Regions from separate parts of the Homo sapiens genome. Here region 1 is linked to region 2. Evidence: fine-mapped expression QTL. A gene starts in region 2. The other region holds a variant in brackets. All regions are shown on one strand. Distances are between the middles of the regions.

Evidence for each region. PIP is the estimated chance that this variant, and not a neighbour inherited with it, causes the effect.
Region 1: its variant is the best candidate, but not a certain one, in a credible set for the expression of USP50 in subcutaneous fat (GTEx, PIP 0.83).

The regions. Positions count from the first base shown.
Region 1 is chr15:50,494,134-50,498,545 of GRCh38, forward strand. USP8 (ubiquitin specific peptidase 8) reads left to right here. Exons shown (of 20, transcript NM_005154.5): 16 at 1-147; 17 at 1,715-1,951; 18 at 2,956-3,098. It also overlaps a transcript of USP50 not described here. Among named protein-coding and RNA genes, the nearest start is that of USP50, 50 kb to the right of the region's middle. The variant T/G (reference allele first, on the strand shown) is at 2,371.
Region 2 is chr15:50,544,726-50,549,137 of GRCh38, forward strand. It overlaps USP50 (ubiquitin specific peptidase 50), which reads right to left and starts at 1,941. Exons shown (of 7, transcript NM_203494.5): 1 at 1,748-1,941; 2 at 1-56. The coding sequence starts at 1,800.

The DNA of each region.
Region 1 (4,412 bases), 51 kb before region 2:
TGGACAGGACAGTATAGATATATCAGTCCAAAGGACTTTAAAATCACCATTGGGAAGATCAATGACCAGTTTGCAGGATACAGTCAGCAAGATTCACAAGAATTGCTTCTGTTCCTAATGGATGGTCTCCATGAAGATCTAAATAAAGTAAGAAATTTGATTTTTCTAAGTTGCAGAGACTCTTTAGGGTTGCTCAGTAGCACTGTATTTTTATAGCAGTTTAAAATTCTAGTTGGTGATAGTTCAGTGCTTGTTTATTCAAATAGTGACTGTATAAGAGAATTATAAAACATCAGGTAAGTGTAATATTTGAAGCATATACAGTTGGTATTTACTAATTAACAAGCAGTATTGCTGAGAAATTTGCAAATGTTAAAATAGTTATTGGCGTTTGTGACCCACATGTATGTGAAAGTAAAATCATAAACAAATGATCTTATAAAAGATTATAGACAGTTTGAGCATTTTTATTGTATGTTATGTTTATATAATATGTATATGTTATTGTACATATCCTTATTCTTTTCTTTTTCCCAGTCCCTTGCTGAAAGTGGAACATGCCTTTATTCTTACACATCCTTCTAAAATAAGAATTACTTGGCTGGGCACAGTGGCTTATGCCTGTAATCCCAGTACTTTGGGAGGCCAAGGCTGGTGGATCACCTGAGGTCAGGAGTTTGAGCCCAGCCTGGCCAACATGGCAAAACCTCGTCTCTACTAAAAATACAAAAATTGGCTGGGTGTAGTGGCATGTGCCTGTAATCCCAGCTACTCAGGTGGCTGAAGCAGGAGAATCGCTTGAACCTGGGAGGCAGAAGTTGCAGTGAGCCGAGATTGCAGTGACCACTGCACTCCAGCCTGGGCGACAGAGTGAGACTCTTTCTAAAAAAAAAAAAAAAAAAAATTACTCCATGTAACCAAATGACTCATGTGACTAGTTATTATAAAGGCATGTATGTATACATAAATGACCACCCTCCATTTACATACTACAACTTCTTTTTAGCACTTTTTGTCTCACATATTTTGGGGTCACCATTCTTAACCACTGAACAGATATATATATATATACACACACACCTACACAAAAATATTTGTGTATATATATATACGTGTATATATACATACATATATACACATATATATACACATACATATATACATATATACGTGTATATATACATACATATATACACATATATATACACATACATATATACATATATAGAGAGAGAGAGGCTAGGGCAACAAAATTATATATGTCCAGTTGTAGCCCTAATTCCCAGCTATATGTGGGATATCTTTTCTAAAAACCAAACTTTTTAGCTTTTTCTTTTTTTAGTAGAGATTGGAGGGGGGGGTCTCACTATGTTGCACAAGTTGGTCTCGAACTCCTGGCCCCAAGCAGTCCTCCTGCCTTGGCTTCCCAGAATGCTGGGATTACAAGCATGAACCACCACATCTGGCCCTTTTCAGCTTTTTAAATAAAAATTTGGGAAATTTCAACAAGTCACATTCCTTCAATAAAGTGAGTGAGTTTTTTTTGGTATTTTTGGCTAGAATTATTTTTTGCCACACTCAGTGAGATCAGAACTCCTTTATGAGAACTACAGGTGTTTCTAAATCTGGCAAGTGTTTGTATTCACTTTTATTCTTTCAATTTAAATGTTTTCTTTGAGATATTAATATAGAGCTTAAATCATTTTATTTCCAGGCTGATAATCGGAAGAGATATAAAGAAGAAAATAATGATCATCTCGATGACTTTAAAGCTGCAGAACATGCCTGGCAGAAACACAAGCAGCTCAATGAGTCTATTATTGTTGCACTTTTTCAGGGTCAATTCAAATCTACAGTACAGTGCCTCACATGTCACAAAAAGTCTAGGACATTTGAGGCCTTCATGTATTTGTCTCTACCACTAGCATCCACAAGTAAATGTACATTACAGGTAAGTTTAAGAAGTAGAGAGAAAATGATTTATTGGATAAAAATGCTGTTTTTATGGATATAGAGATGTAAATTTCTGGTCTTTACCCTTACAAACATTTTATCAGTAAAACTCGGCCGGGCGCAGTGGCTCATACCTTGTACTCCCAGCACTTTGGGAGGCCGAGGTGGGCGGATCACGAGGTCAGGAGATCGAGACCATCCTGGATAACACGGTGAAACCCCATCTCTACTAAAAATACAAAAAATTAGCCGGGCGTGGTGGTGGGCACCTGTAGTCCCCGCTACTCAGGAGGCTGAGGCAGGAGAATGGCGTGAACCCTGGAGGCGGAGTTTACAGTGAGCTGAGATCTCGCCACTGCACTCCAGCCTAGGGGACAGAACAAGACTCCGTCTTAAAAAAAAAAAAAAAAAAAACCT[T/G]TTATCAGTAAAACTCAATATAAATTCTGTTTTATAATTAGGCCTATGTAGATTAGAAAGAATTAGAAATTTCTTTTTTAAAGATACCTTTATTAAATATTCTTTCAGGATTTCAGGATTGTTAGTATGTTTTTAAAAAGTTTTATAAGTTAATTTGGAAAGTTGTCTGTTGACTAACTTAGGCCTACTTTTCATAAGCATTTGCTTTACATGGGGATATCAAATAAATATCCTGTTTTCCATGTATCAACAATGTTTCTTATATAAAAGCTTGTTGATACCTTTAGTCTTAAAGTACCTCCAGAATGTCATTTCCTCCAACAGGGTTTCTCTGATTGACCAGGTTAGGGGCTTTCCTGTGTCCTGTCACAACACACTGTAGGTAGCACTCACCACACTCTGTGCTGTCATTGTTCACTTGTCTATGCTTCTCACTAGATCACAAGCTTTGGGAAGGCAGGAACTCTTTTGTGTAGATTGCTGTTGAATCACTGGTGCCTGCAGAGTGACTAACTAAATAGGTGCTCTCTGACATTATTGAAGAATCGAATTAACGAGTATCTGCTACTTGTTTTTTTCTGCCAGGATTGCCTTAGATTATTTTCCAAAGAAGAAAAACTCACAGATAACAACAGATTTTACTGCAGTCATTGCAGAGCTCGACGGGATTCTCTAAAAAAGATAGAAATCTGGAAGTTACCACCTGTGCTTTTAGTGCATCTGAAACGGTAAAGGGGAAAGTTTGTCCTCCTGTTCAGTGAAATTAAATGAGGGAATTTTAAGTTCTGTGTAATTTATACTTGTTGTACTGCCTGCCATGGGCACATAACAAAGGGCGATTATCTGGTTACAGTAGATCTAGGGAAATAAAGCAGAAATGAGACTGTTAGTTCACCTCAGTGTTTTCAGTACCACAGCAAAATGACAATACCACTATTTCATGTAATTCCTTATAATTTTAAATAATTACAAAGCATCAAGTGAAAATGTATAAAAATATTACAGTATAATTCAAACAAATTAGCACATGAAATGTAACATTCAAACAGCAGACTAAAGCATAACAGACTTAGTTATGTGTTAAATAAAATTTATAATTTTTAAAGTATTTTAATGATAAAATATGTTAACGATACCATTAAGTGCAGAAATAATTTCATCCAGATTTTTCCAATTGATGGAAAAGATCTAGTCCTATAATAGAAGGAATAATGACAAGAGTTATAAAACACGAACCAGATCTTTTGCTGATTCTTTGGTCTTCACATAATCACATAATCCATGTAACTCAAGAACTTTGAGTTGATTATTTGAAAAACTTTTTAAAGGAAGTTGCACTTTTTTATTGAGAGCTGTAATTTTTGTGTCAAAAAAGCATTTCTGTTAAAAATGTTTTATCTTGTATTGAGATTCTTAGTTCCATATATTAATTTCCAAATTTACATGTTCAGATTTCTCTTGTGTAAATTTTTCTAACAAAAGCTAGTTTTTTCCATTGTCCTAGTTGAGGATTCTGGAAGTATAAACATTCTATAAGTGATTACACATTTGCTAAAATTTTTAATGCTGAATATTTTCAAAATTATGAAATAACCATATTACACCAACCAAGATATCATTGTTTTGATGTTTAAAGGAGCAGAATATGCCAGAATAATGGAATGAATGACATTATTTTAGTCAGTAGTCTCCTACTCTCAATTTCTGGCTCTAGTTTTCTCTGAAGTACAAGCTTGACTCGAGAGCAGCTGTCATTCTTTCTTTTGTGGTGGTCAGCATTATAAACATGTGGGTCTTACCTTCCTAGAAGACTCATGTAGCAGTTGTAGCTGGACCAGAGTATAGTCCTACCTCTACCATTCTGGCTGTTTGACCTTAGGCACATCATTAAATATCCATATGCCTCAGTTTTCTTGTTTGTAAAATGGAAATGAAGCCAAATGTCTTTAACAGGTTCCTCTACTACTAAAATTCCAAGTCTTTGTATTTGAAATGGATTTTACAGTCCTGGCTAAAAATCTAGATGTTAATGAATGAGGATT
Region 2 (4,412 bases):
GGTTCCCATCAGCCTCCTTAACTGGAAGGGTATCATAGTAATCTGTGCACTCTGCACTGTGTTGGTGCCACATGGGAAGAAAGGGTTTTGAGAGAACAAAATATGTACAAATGACAATAAGCTTCTCTTAATATTATGAAATAAAGAAGAGTTCTTAATAAGACTTCCTCCAAACACATTCCCTACCAAGGACAGGAAGTATTGGAACTTGGAGTCTAAAATTGTATTATGGCAGAGCATAGTGGCTCACACCTGTAATCCCAGCCCTTTGGGAGGCCGAGGTGGGAGGATTGCTTGAGGCCAGGAGTTTGAGACCAGCCAGGGTAACATAGTGAGATCTTGTCTCTATTACATAAATAAATTAAATTAAAAACAAAATTACATAACTTAGACCAGAACTGTGAACAAGTACCTGAAGCCAAATAAGACAGATAAAAATTTCCTTCTAAAACTAAAGCAAGACAACTGACAACTTGCTGGGCAAGTAATTAAATTATTATTATTATTATTAATAGTTAATAAAACAATAGCTATCAGGTAGTGAGCCTGGCACTATTTAAGTACTTAACATGCATTTTCCCATTAAATCTTTCAACAATTGTGTAAGGCAGGAACGATTATTTTTACATCCCATTTTACAGATGAGATGTCAGGTTTAAATGATGTAGTCATTTACTCATGGGGTGTGTGGTGGTATGTAAAAAAAGGAATATCCACCTATCTGTTTACCTCCCTCCCTCTCTCCCAACATACCTATCCATTAAGATATTTGGATTTACATATATTAAGATTGTCTATATATATTAAGATTGTCTCTATATATGTGATATATATGTATATATTTGTATATATATGTATGTATGGCATATATATTGAAGGCATAATATATGCACATTAAGAGCATGAATATATATATCTTAAGAGCACACATATGTGTATATGTGTATGTATATAGCTATATACATATAAACACACACACACACATATACACGGAGAGGAGAAAGAGCACAGACTTTGTAAAAATATAGATCTTAGTTTAAATCCCAACTATGCCGTTTATTAATTATAGGATCTGGGATTCTATGTCCGTTTCTCATCTATAAAATAGGAATAATATCATCTGCCTGATAGGATGGTTGTGAGGATTATGCAGGTATCATGCAAGCTACTTGACACAGGTTCGTCTAAATGACAACTGAAAAATTTTTTTAAGTGATTGATCTAGGATGTCCTTCCCAGTAAGCTACAGGATTAGAGTGTTCATGTGAATTGCCCAGACCTGCCTGCACAGAGAGAACACTGAGGGTTCCAAACGGGACCTCCTCTCCCTGCACAGAGCTTCCTCTTACAATTTTTTGTATTGTGCCAGGCAGCCTGGTATCTATGTCCTCTCGGATTTTTCTTTCCATATATTGTATCTAAAGTTGGGGCTCCATGAGACAGTGACCTTACCTCATACATACTTTTAAGTACAGTTATGCCAGTTTGAAAAGTGTTCACTGTTATAAGCATGGTCATTTTCACTTTTACTCACTGATACCACAGGAGGTCCTAGACTGTCACCCTTTAGGAAGGACATGTATTTATTGCCAAGATATTAGGTACAATCTTCCTTCCTTTCCGGGGACCTTCCATGGGTCACACCTGGGAGAACCCTCCTGAATGCAGTGTGTGTCCCCTGACTCCTCTGAGCTTGACTTTCCCACCACTGGGCTAATCTAGAAAGCTGTAGTAGATCAAGGCTCACAGGACGTGGTAGATATCGAAGTCATCTGCAGGGAGAGACGGCTGAGAAGTCATTTTAATGGAACCACGTTGGACTTTTGCTTCTATTCAGGAGCTACATCTATTCCTTTCAACTTCATTTCTCTGAGCCTGTTAACGCTGGCTTTTTGTTTTAAACAATTGATATGCTCCTCTCTCTTCCAGTAGCTGCGAACTGATTTTCACCTGTATCAGGCACCACTCCAACTTGGATTTTCCGTACATCATAATCCTTTCCATTCACCTTCAAGATTCTATCATGTTGCCATGAGACACTGTTACTGGGTTGTCTGAAATGTTTTAGAAAGATTAGGCTCCAGAGAATGAACTACACATATAACCTCTCTTCCTTCTTCCATCACTCAGTTTCTCTTGTGTATATATATATTACACATACACACACACACACTTAACATGTGCACAAAAATTTACCGCCACTGAGTTAGTGGACACTACGGCAACCCTGCCTGCTCTGGGCACTCATTCCCCCTTCCCAGCGACTACACCACACCTAGGAGCCCTGAGGGAATTTCCTCACCCCGGGGAGCGAGGATTTCCACTTCTATTCAGGAGCTAGATCTATCCGGACTGAATACCGGATCAGAAAAAAAAAATTGCCATAAAAGAACATTATGGGAACGATTGATGAAATTTGAATATGGATAATATGCAGATAGTTTTTTCTATTAATGTTGAATCTTCTGAATTTGATAAGATTGTACTGTGTTTATGCAAGGGGATGCCCTTGTTCTTAGAAAATACACACTGAAGTTTTTCGGGGCACAGGGGCATGATATATGCAACCTATTTTCAAACGGTTCAGGAAGCACACAGGGACAGGAGGACAGGAAGGAAGGGGACTGATAAAGCACATACTATAAAGCCAGTGCACCCACACGCCAGCAGTTGGTGATTCCGAGTGAAGGCCCACTAAAGAGCACTATTCTTGCAACTCTTCTGCAAGTTTAAAAAATTAAAAAGAGGCCGGGCGCATCGGCTCACGCCTGTAATCCCAGCACTTTGGGAGGCTGAGGCGGGAGGATCACGAGGTCAGGAGACAGAGACCATCCTGGCTAACACGGTGAAACCCCATCTCTACTAAAAATACAATTAACTGGGCGTGGTGGCGGGCGCCTGTAGTCCCAGCTACTCGGGAAACTGAGGCAGAAGAATGACGTGAACCCGGGAGGCGGAGCTTGCCGTGAGCCGAGATCGCGCCACTGCACTCCAGCCTGGGCAACAAAGCGAAGACTCGGTCTCAAAAAAAGAAAAAAAAAATTAAAAAGAAAGAATATATTACACATATTTTTTGCTAAAATGGATTTCTCTCCAGATATATGACTGGTAAGTCAAAAAAAGCAAGGTGTTGAGGAATCCATAGTATGCACCCCAACTTATGTCTAAATGGTTAAAAAAAACCCACATATATGCTCAGGCTACACGAAGATATTTAGAATATTCATTCTTTGACACCTGGATAAGGAATCCTGGCAAGTAGAGCTGTCCTCTCTTGCAGGTATTTGATATTTGCGATGTATTTACAGAGGTATCTCTCCAAGTCACCTCAGTGGTGGTTCTGCAGGACTTAAATCCTGTAAACTTGCTCTATTTGTCAGTGAGGCTCTCCCAAGTCCTTCATTTTCTCCTAATCAATAGGGTCTTTTAAAAGTTTCATTTTGTGTTTGATGCTGGTAGGTAAAAATACAATTATTTGTCATATGTTGGTTGTCTATCCAGGAACCTTTCTAACCTGACTTACTCTTTAATTTTTTAATTTTTATTTAAATAGAGACAGGGTCTCGCTATGTTGCCCAGGCTGGTCTCGAACTCATGGGCTCAAGCAATCCTCCCACCTCACCCTCCCAAAGTGCTAGGATTACAGATGTGAGCCCCTGAGTATGGCCTAACTTGACTTACTTAAGTCTAATTTTTACATAGGTTCTTTGGATTTTTTATAAACACATTCAAGTTGTCTGCAACAAAATCAGTTTAATTTTTTTCTGAGTCTTACTTCTTCTTTACTAGTGAGGACTGCCAGTAAAATAGTGAAAATAGTGAAAAATTGTGAACATAGTAAAATAGTGAATAGAAGTGGAGATAGCTAATTGCTTAACTCAGAGAGAAAGCTTTGGATAATTCACCATTAAGTATGATGTTTGCAGACATAGTATTGAAGAGTTGTAATCATGAATGGATAGTGAGTATGACCAGATTTCTCTGTATTTATTGAGGTAATCATGAGATTTTCTTTCTTATTCTGTTATTGTTGTTCATTATCAATGATGGTCACATATTAATCTTCTATTCCTCAGGTATATTTTGTTTGAGCTGTAGTTATTATTTTCGTGAATTGTTGGGTTCTAGTTGTTAATCTTTTTGTTCAAGGGTTTTGTATCTATGTTCATGAGTTAGATTATCTATGTGTTAATATTCTGTGCTCTATAACAAACTACTAAGCTTAGTTTAAAACCAGACATGGGGCTGGGTGTGGTGGCTCATGCCTGTAATCCCAGCACTTGGGGAGGCCGAGGTAGGAGAATCGCTTGAGTCCAGGAATTCAAGACCAGTTTGGGCAACACAGTGAGAATATCCCCCACCCCCACCCCCATTCCCCCCCACCCCACTCTCCACCCTCCGTCTACCAAAAA